Linked DNA regions of Homo sapiens: region 1 is linked to region 2. The links come from fine-mapping of genetic effects on gene expression. A gene starts in region 2. The other region holds a variant in brackets. All regions are shown on one strand. Distances are from middle to middle. Region 1 overlaps SNX19 (sorting nexin 19). Region 2 holds the start of SNX19 (sorting nexin 19).

Region 1 (5,380 bases), 30 kb before region 2:
ACACAATACAATCTCTAAATTTTTTAAGCTGTAATTCAATTTCTAAGACACACTTTATTATCACTCACTATGCCTTTCTTAAGTTGTAAATGGCTGTATATTCAGGGATTTGGTATACTTTGCCTTGCCCAACACCTGGATGGAACCAACTGCCACTGGTTCTTGAGAGCAATGAAGAAGGTGGAGATTTCTTCATCCAAATATCTTTCCTCTCCCTTTCATCCCTACCTTCCCTTCCTTTGGTTCTATCATCCTTCTCTAAGGTAAAGCTCCATACACACCACCATTTCATTATCTAACTTTATTAACTCCCCTAATCATGCTTGATTTATTTGGAAACTGGCTAGAGCACGGAAGACAAAGACATTAGGTGTAGGATTGTTAAAAGGGGCAGAAGTCTCAACTCCTCTCCATTAACTCTCTTCATCTCGCGATTTCTACACTGCATCTTTCTATTCTTATCATAGGAGTGGGAAGGTTAAAAAGAGATTCGTAACCCTATAGAGCTCTCTTTAAGTGGAAGGGATGGAATTTATGTGTCTGAACTCTAATACATCATAGGAGGTTTTCCAGCATCAGTTTCTGGACTTTGCTGGTACCATTTACTATTAGGCTGACAGAAATCTAAAGCTTCAAGGTCAACACACACACACGTTTCTCTTACTATTCATTAGAAATTACTTATAATAGGCCGGGCATAGTGGCTCACACCTGTAATCCCAGCACTTTGGAAGGCTGAGGCGGGCAGATCACCTGAGGTCAAGAGTTTAGACCAGCCTGGCCAACATGGTGAAGCCTCGTCTCTACTAAAAATACAAAAAAAATTAGCTGGGCACGGTGGCGCACGCCTGTAGTCTCCAGCTACTCGGGGAGGCTGAGGCAGGAGACTCGCTTGAACCCAGGAGGCAGAGGCTGCAGTGAGCCAAGATCACGCCACTGTACTCCAGCCTGGGTGACAGAGGGAGACTCCATCTCAAAAAAAAAAAAAAAAAAAAAATTACTTATAATAAATCATTTACTAAATACAAATGCTCTTGTTCATGTAATACAAGATGCATGAAGTAAATATGCTAAAATAAATATGGTAGAGAATAGCCTCAGATAGCACTGGTTTTATTTTCCACTACTATTCCAGGTCTGATATTTGATTTAGAGATATCTCTTTCTATTATCCTGCCTTCATCCCAAAGAAGAGAAGAAAAAAGAACCCAAACCAGGTCTCTTGTGTCAAGCCATCTCTGAATGATTCAGAGCCTTAATAGGGGGCCTAGAAATAGCCAGTAAAATGGCCAAAAAACCCCACTCCACAACCACATTTTGACCCCAAGACATTCAAGAGCTTCCCTTATGCCAGACAGGGGAGAAGAAAGGATGTGGAGATCAGGGCTTGTCAGTAGCTGGGACTGCACATCCACTCCATGTTCAAGGGAACCTGGTCTGAAATAGCCGCAGATAGGGGAATGAAGCAATGACTAAAAAGGAGACAGTTTAATACTAGGGCTTAAGATGGCACTTCAAGGTTAGTAGAAGGTCATTTCCCATCAAAACAGCAGAATCAAATCTCATGAGTAAGGAGAAGGCTTTAGAGACCATGTCTAATCCAATTAGCCAAATCCCCTTCATTTCTTTTCTAAGACAGCAGCTATGGCTGAGTGAGAAAGGGTCTTGAATCAGTATGGCTTAATGAAGAGGAGAAAGGGAAGAAGATACTAAAATCATAAAACAGAAAATATTCATAAGATCCACAACAATATTCTAAACAAAAATGCCTGGTGCAGTCTAAATATAAGGAAAATAACAGGTCCATTCCTTCCAGCCTATTTATCTATTGGCTGTACCTCTATAGACAATCCAAGGGCAATTATGCTCCAACCTTAAGATACCAAATACAGTTCAAAGGAAAAGAGAAAGAAAAGGAAGATCAAGTTAAAGCTTCTATCATCCTAAGTACACCTTCAGTAAATTAGAAGTATTGACTTATTTTATTACCCTGAGAGCAGGGTTTTCAACGTTGGTACTACTGATATTTTGGACTGCGAAATCTTTGTCATAGGGGCTTTCCTGTGCATTATAAAACATTCCACAACATCCTTGCCCCTCCTCCCCTCAAACTAGATGCTAGTTTTGCCAACCAAACATGTCTCCAAACATTGCGGCATGTCCCCTGAGGACAAAATTGCTCCAGTTGAGAATTACTGCCTTAGACCCAGGGACTTTTGGATATAATTGTATCAGGCTACTTTCACAGTCATTTTAAACCTCATGGTTGTAGCGCAATGTTTTTCGACCTGTGGGCTGGACATCATTAGAGGTCATATCATCTGTTTTGTTGTTTGTGATAACATAAAAAGGCATCTCATGTTTGGAGACACTTGTTTCGTATGTATGTACATATATATGTATATATCAGATCTGCGTGCATGCATATGTGTGTATGCGCCTGTGCCTATGTGCATGCTCACAGTGGGCTGCAACGTACAATGCATTTTTTACTGTAGGTTGAAGTTTTAAAAAAAGTTTGAAAAACACTCATGCAGTGTCAAGAATTAGGAGTTCCGAGAGAAAGTAGGAGAAGCCCAAGCCACATTTTTAGCTTCCTGGAAATGCTCCCCATCTCCACCCACCCAAGCACCCTGTAAAATGTTTGCAGGGGCCTCAACCATGAACACTGTGTTCTGTACTGCCAGTCCTAGCACATAAGTATGAGTATTGGCTCATCCAATCAGTAGCAGCAATCTATAGGGTGGGAGAGAAAGGAGGTCTTGGAGGTGATGGTGTAGATTCAGGACATTATCCATTAAACAAAATGTTTTTGCCCATTTCACACCTGATAAAAGTTATACTTCTTTTCTCTCTGATGCCGTTCCCAGGCCTCTGTCTTCCTGCCATGGCCCCTTCTTGTGTTTATAGACAGTTTCCCCTGTCAGCTCTCAGCTCTAGGCTTCTGTCCTGTAACTATCCAGACCCAAGTTACTCAGCTGTGTCTGAGAAAGTTCAACACTGCTGCCCTCTGACTGTGTATCTAGGTCACCATCCTTTCCTG[C/A]CCAGTGCTGGGGAAGAATGAGGAGGAAATGAACCCCGAGGGCAAGAAACTACCACTTCTTTCTCCCAATACTACTGTGAAATCTAAAATGGCTCAGAGTTGGCACAATTTCTTCTCTGATTTTTGCTTTCATGTTTTAAATCATGGATCCACATCTTTGAATCATGTACTTCAAGGGAAGACTTGACATTCTCCTAAATACCACAATATAAGAATCTGAGTTCCATACATTTATATCTAGCCACAAACAGTTTTTGTTTTTGATTAGTAATGTACACATCACAGATATAAAATTAATATGTATTAAAAAATGGAAGGATTCTTAAGGAAGGAACTTCAAAAAATCATCTGTTCAACCTTAGTGGTTTTTCCAATCTCACCAACTCTACATATGAAAGCATTGGGCACCAAAAGGAAATATTTTACATCAAGTGGCTTATAAGAACATACAACTTGAGAGTTGGAAGGAAACTTAGAGGTTATTTTATCCAGTCTCCTCCCAAAGCAGAAACCTCCTCTGTAATATAACGGCATAGACAAGGGTTGGGTCCTGTGAATCCAGAAACTTGGGCTTTTATCTTAGTTCTGCTACCCAATTAGCAATGTGACCTCAGGCAAGTGGCTTAATTCCTTAAAAGCATAATCTAAATTCATTGAAGATGCTTCTTAAACCTTGCCAACCCAAATCGGCCTCCTTGTGTTAATGAATTCTAGTCATTGGTCCTAGTTCTACTCTCTGGAGTTACCAGATATTAGGTTAAATCTCTTCCAAAAGACAACATTTTGCATTTTTAAATTCAGCTATTATTTCTCCCCTATGTCTCTTCTACATCCCATACATCCGTGATTTTGCCAACCTCAAAGACACTCAATAAATGTCTGATGAAAGAAGGAGAGAAATGAACCACTCCTCAACCTGGCTCCATCCTCTGGGTGTGCTGCTTAGCTTTTCTTTTAAAATGATGTGCCCAGAACCAAACAGCTCTGAGATGTGACCTGACCAGCAAAGAACATAGGGGATTGAGCCTTCCTTTAGATTTAGATACTATACTTCTCATACAGCCGAAGATTGTGTTAGCTTTTTGGCACACACGTCAAAAGCACTGACTCATATTGAGTTTTCAGCCAGCTAAAATCCTAAGTCCACACAGGTACATTACAAAAAAAAAAAAAATCGTGTGCCCCTCTGTTAAGTATAGTCTTGCCCTTCTGTATTTGTGCAATTAAAAAAAAATCTAAATTATAGTTCATCTTGTTGGCTTTAGATTATCATTCTAAGTTTTCTAAATGTTTTTGAATCTTAATTTTCATCATCTAGAGTTTTAACTACTCCTCTAAGATTAGAATTACTTGCAAATTTTCTGATGAAAAAATTGATCAGGATAAGATGAAGAGCAGTGCTCTATTACTAGAAATTTCCCTCTAGGATGGCATCAGTTTATGATATTATTTAATACCCTTGGGCTAAAGACACTCGACTAGCCACAAATTACTTAAATGTACTATAATGCAGGCAACATATTCCATTCTGTCCATATGGATATTATGGCAAAAACTTGTTGGAATCCATACACAATGTAACTACAACTGCATGCTAATCAGGCAGGGCACACTCCTACTGAACCCATAATGGTTTCTAGGGTTCCCCATTGCCCTTCCCAAATGTTCACAAACATCTATTTCGTCATCTGCTTCAGAAATTTCCAGAAATAAATGTTGGGGTCAAGAACCTTTAACCATTTTTTAAAAAGGCAAGATATCTGTGCATCTCTAACCCATATGGACAAATGGCAATGTTTCTTAATGACCTTAGGTCTTTAATGTTAAATATAAATTTGTTAAGTTTCATGGGATATAATTCATCTAGGCCATGTACAGGTTTAAATGTACAAACTTTAAAATAGGTTACGTGCTCTATTATTATTTTCATTTCTATTTTGGTCGCCAATTCTACTTTAATCATGTCTGTTCAATTCTTCTTGCTAGGCCATTTTCCTTGACAAAGAAAATAGAAAACAGCCTAGCAAATAATAGACCCATTCATTCACTGCTGAATGAATGAATAAATGCTTTCACCATGTAATCAGTTGATACTACAGCATCTGTCCCAAACAATTACCTACATATATTTTTTCTTGTTAGTAACATGTGACACGTGTATGTGTTTTTCACCTAAGTCTTTTCCCTTAATATTTATCTACAACCTCAGCTCCTTCTGAGTTGAAGCTTACTGGACCCTGTTCTTACTAGTTCTATTACTACTATTTTTGCATTGTTCAGTATGTGTCCCCTCTTTCTGTTTTTAAAATATGTTCACCTAGAATCTGATCGCAGTTA
Region 2 (5,380 bases):
AGGAAGGTCTTTTCCCTCTTAGTTGGATTGGGAGTTCGGAGGAGTGTAGCAAGCAGGCTGTCCCTGGTGGTAGCTTGTGGACTCAAATGAGAGAAATTCAAGTGTGGAAGGCAAGTAAAATCCAATGGGTAGGATCTTGTCCAAGAATTTTCTTTCTCAACTTCTTCCCTGCTGATTTCTTTTTCAAAATACTGGTACATTTTGTACTTTGTTTTAGGAAGGTAGGTTATTTACCTATGTCTATCTCAGAAGATAGCAAGTTTTTGACTCTTGGAGGTGTGTAAGCAGACTTGGGAACAACTTGACAAGAGATAACATGAAGAGGGTTGGTTGGATTAGAGAGGCAATTCCCCAAGATGGCCTTAGGACAGGCTGACTCTATGTTATCTGGAGAGTTCTATTTGAAAATAAATAAAATACAGAATCCAGGGACCCCCTCCTTAGAAATTCTCATACAGAATCCAACAGAGTCTGTCAGAATCTGTATATCTGAAAGGCAGCTCAAGTGATTTTGAGGTGCAGCCAAGTTTGGGAACCACTGAAAATATAACCCTCAGCATTCTAGCAGCCCTGAGGTTCCAGGATTGCTTGTGTGAGTACAGGATAAACGCTACTCTGCCTTACATATTAGCTTCAGACCATTCACAGAGATAGATGCCTATTGAAAGAACCACTTCAAACTAACAGCATCTCTCCCCCAAGAACATTTGCTTCATGACTGCTTTCCAAACCCACTCCTAGCCCGGGTGAGCACCCACAGCTTTAATCCTGTTACCTTCACAGTATAGAGTGTGTATGGGTGGAATCCAGTGCCACTGTGCTCTCGGGCTGTAATGGTGCCAGTGATACGAAGGTTCTGGATGATAACTGGACCATCGGGACTGCTTAGGGGCTCAAAGCTGAAGGTGGCTGAGCTGAGAGGACCAGGTGGAGAGGAGGAAAGCAGAACTGGTGGCAGAGTAGGATCAAGGGAGCTCACATCATTGGTGAGATCCTTCTCTAAGCATGACGGCCGTGAGGGGCAGGTCTTTTCTGGCCCCTCCAGCAAAGCTGTAACAGAGGCGGTAACATCTCCTTGTTCTATCTCCTTGTCTGCTGTGTCAATATGGATCTCTGGGCAGGAATTCAGTGTGGAGACCGGCAGGCCTGTCTCTGTTTCTGTCCCTGGACCCTCCTCAGCCTCTGCTCCTTCAGATGCCTCACCATCTTTGGGTTCCAGAGCCTGGGAACTCTCTAGGGCACACAGGGCATCCTGAATCCTGTCAGAGAGAAAGCTGCCTGGAGTCATGAGCATGATGGTTTCTTTGCCCAGTTCAGACAGCGGAGACTCCAGCTCTGAGTCTTCACATAAGAACAGGGGACCTCGAACATTTGGCTGTAGGAAATGAGATGAGTTGTTTCCTACTTTTCTTTCTTCACACATCCCACCCAAATCTCCCTCTACAGCTTCGTGGCCTTCTTCAACCTCTGGAGAGGGGCCTGCAGAACCCTCTGGCTCACTGTAACTTAGGAATACTGGGGCTGCTACTGGAGAAGCTCTCCCTTCTGGAAGCTGCTCTACCTCAGCAATCAGTGGCAGAGATGTCGGCACTGAGGGCTGTTCGGGGGCACTGGCTGGGCAGGGTGCTGGATCTCTGGCCTTGGAAAAGATACCCACGAGTACAAGGTGGATCCAGTCAGGATCTGACAGCCTGCTGATCAGTGGTAAGATTACATTGCATGTGATGAGTTCGACCACTACATGGCGTCCGGTACGAGTCTCCAAGTGGGGCTTGGGCACCAGCCCTTGAAGCAACAAATTCACAACGCCACGCGTATAGGTGACTTCAGCACTGGGGCTGTGCACAGCAGGATGTGGGGCAGTCGCCCGGCAGTAAGCCTCCCAGAGGTGGGAAGGCTCAACTGGACCATTCTTCCCTGCAGTGGCCTCCTTTGCCTGAATGTAGCTCTGCAGGTGACAACCGCAGAGAGTCAGAACACTCTGGGCAACAGCATGACTGTCCATCACGCTCATCCTTCTCCGAAGCTCCTGGACCAACCCTTTCATGGCTGCCTCCATTTCTTCCTCAAAGGCTGGCTCCTGGCTCACGGAACGGTACCAAGATAACACAAAATCTCGAATAATCATCTGGATGGTGCGGTTGATCTCCCGTTCCAGCTGCCTTTCTGCCTCAGGGCATGGAGGACAGGTGGCCAACGGGATGAAGCGTTCCAGATGCAGTCGACCTGAAGCCACTCCAGCGAGGCTGGAGCCCAGCCATCCTCCCAGCACCACTAGCAATGCCGACAGAAGGCACAGCAGCCACACGTTGACCAGAAGGTGTATGACCAGGAGCCAGCCAAGCAAGACCCCCACAGCCATCAGCTTCCGGCTACTCAACAGGTTATTGAGGTGACAGCTCGATCCAGCTGGAGTTTCCTGGAACGGTGGCACTGTTTCTGTCTTCATGGCTGAACGGACAAGGTGGCTTCCCCAGATGACAGCCCTCAAGATTTTACTTCAGAGTTAGGGAAGGGGGGCATGAACTGTGTCTCAGATATGGGGCGATCTGGGTGCTGTTCAGGGAACCGGGGCTCCAGGCCCTCAAAGTCCTACAGGCACTGCAAAGCGACAGCTGCAGCTCCGCGTCTCCCCATGGCTACCACTAACAGAGCCCTCCAACTCGCCCCTTCCAGCTGAGGTGTGGCTTTGGAGGAAAACTCTGTGGCCTTCACACTGCCCCAGGCGGAAGGCCTCTTCGGGGCCTCGGGGCGGGCGCTGCAAGGCCCTGGGGCCCACGGACACTTACACACGCAGCGGGCAGCGGCCGGCGAAGACTGGGTCACACGCCGCCGGGAACCGCGCGCCCACACTCAGCCCCGACCTGAAGTGGACTCATCGCGGTCCTCTCCGGGAGCCTCGGCCCTCTGCCGCCGTAAACCTGGGCGACTGCGCTCCGCAGCCGGGCCTGTGTGAAGGCTGACCGCCGGCCGGCCGCCGGCGACAGCTTCCGGGTCGACGTCGACGGGAGCGAGGCATGCTGGGAGAGCGTCCGCGCGCGCCCCGAGGAGCGGCGCTGCCCGGCGCCCTCTGCTGGCGAGGAGCCGCCCTGACGGCCCTGCGCGAGGTAGTCTCTGAGCCTGAGCGTGAGCCTGAGCGCGCACGGGGCGCGTGCTCGCCAAGAGCTGGCGCAGATTTCCGAAGTGCCACGAAACAGCCGCCGCAGCAATCACCGCTAAGACCCAGACTTCCAGGCGCTTTAAAACGCGTCCTAGTTCTGGTTATTAAATGAAGCCTGTCCTTTACTGCTTAGGCACGCTGTCAATAATCCGGTTTATTTTAATTTCATGGAGGCGAAGTTTCATTGGCCTGATGTGTCTTAACATTTATCCGGTTTCCCCTAGAGCCGGTACCCCGCGTCCCCAGCACAAAGACCCTCATTTGTTGTCAGGAATTGCAGAATATAAGGCATGAAACGATACAGAGATAGATTTATGTTGTACATTTCATATACTGTATCACAAAATCAAATTTGTGATTGAGGGTTATTTGCTGGTGGCATTACACAAACAATCAAATATTTTGAGCATCTGCTGTCTTCAATGTGAGAGGCAGCGTGGACGAATAGAAGCAGACCTTGTCCTCCAGGACCTCCTGCTAACTGGGGATGCCAGCGCTTTGAACGCGATTGGCTATCTAGTAATGCCAGTCAGCGTGCGATATAGTAAAATACAAAATCTTATAGGAATTCAGGGGAAGGAGAGATCACTGTGGGTTGCAATGGTTAAGGAGAAGCTCACAGAAAAGGTGCCTTTCTGCTGAGTCTTCAAGGATGAGGGTTTCTATTTCCCTCTATCTCTTCTCGCCTTATCCTCCCCAAAAACATAGAAAAGGAAAGCAGAGATAGAGGTGTCCTTTCAGATAATCCTGTAATATATTTGCTTTGGAATATGCTCTATGTTGGATTGTTTTTGGTTTTAGCAAATTAGACTTCACTTGTCTACACAGGAACCTATAGGAAGACAAAATACCGGAAGCACTGACCAGGTGTCAAAAGTGTTAGTGTCAGTTTTGCGTGAAGCCAGCTTCCATGTCCACCTTGGGCCCTAGGAGCTGTGCCCGCAGGGTGGGTCTCCTTTCCATTTAGGCATAGGATTCGCATCGTTTGCACAGAGCTGCTCATGGTTGCCCTTCGTCCACCTTCTCTGTGCTGTGAGCAGTCTTTCATCATCATGGACTACTCCCTAGATGTTTAAAGGAATCTTCAAACAAATCCCAACCCAAAACTCTGCCAACAAGAAGTGCGTTGCAGCTTCCTGTCTCGTCCATTGCTGCTGTTGGGGCAGAGACTTCCTTTGAATACGAAAGAAGCCATCATTTAGATGTGACCCGTAGTTTACGATTCATCACTTCTAAAGCAAATGGTTTGATTTAGGATCAGTGTCCACTAAGCAGACTGGGCACTCCCGTGAGATGGCAGAATGTGAATCCACGGTTTCACGGTCCATACCTTTTCACTGCTGCCTGCCTTCCCGCAGAAAAGGAACCCGAGAAGTGGGCTCTGCCCCTCTACCTTCCCAGACCATTCTAATGTCCTCAGGAGCACTTAGAAAATGGCAACAATGCTCTGGAGAAAAGTCCCTGCCACCTAGTTGGGAGCTAAAACAGAAATGTGAATGATGAAGGGACTACCGACGGTGCTGAAGACTTCCTGTGGCAGTTCAAAGAGAAAGTTTACTTGGCAGCATAATCTGGAGTGTTCAGGGCAGTAAGGAAGTGACCTTGCAAGTGGGCGCTATGCCACCTGACCAGATGGTCTGGAGCATCAAGGTAGCCAAGAGTGCCTTCCTGATTCTGAAGCGGGTTTGATGGACATGCCCGTGCACTTGTCATTTGGACGGGTGTGAGCTCCTGCCTGGGGGTCTGGGCAGACCCTGGTCTCCAAACAGATTAATCACTGGGAGGAGGTGAGAGTCAGGACTGATGTGCCCTGGTGTGTGTATGTGGGGTGGGGAGACTTGGCCACACCACTCACCATCTGGAGACGTCCTTCCTTCTTTCCTTTTCCCTATTTCTCAAAACATTAAAGGCATAGTGCTAGAGTGTTGGAGAAAACAAGACAAATAAGATACAATAATTCTCCTCAAGGGACTCTCAGTCTAGTTAAAGGAGAGACACATAAATATATAAACGTAATGAAACATGATCACGTGTGTAATGTGATGTGTTCTGATGTGTTGTAATAGAAGTGCATACAATAAAATCGAAACACAAAGCGGGTGGTCAGCTGTGGAGGGGGGTGGCTCATAGACAGTTTTCCCTTAAGTTGGGAAATGAAAAAGAATTGAGTGTATTTTAGGAAATGTTGGGTAGCGAGAGCAAGGGGCAAACAGAAGGAAG

The links. PIP is the estimated chance that this variant, and not a neighbour inherited with it, causes the effect. A credible set is the group of variants that fine-mapping cannot tell apart.
Region 1: its variant is the best candidate, but not a certain one, in a credible set for the expression of SNX19 in lung (TOPMed, PIP 0.57).

What each region holds. Positions count from the first base shown.
Region 1 is chr11:130,883,897-130,889,276 of GRCh38, forward strand. The region is part of intron 8 of SNX19 (sorting nexin 19); the gene reads right to left. Among named protein-coding and RNA genes, the nearest start is that of LINC02551, 24 kb to the left of the region's middle. The variant C/A (reference allele first, on the strand shown) is at 3,044.
Region 2 is chr11:130,913,491-130,918,870 of GRCh38, forward strand. SNX19 (sorting nexin 19) reads right to left here and starts at 2,989. Exons shown (of 11, transcript NM_014758.3): 1 at 776-2,989. The coding sequence starts at 2,449. RefSeq lists an enhancer at 2,732-2,781 and a silencer at 2,902-3,181.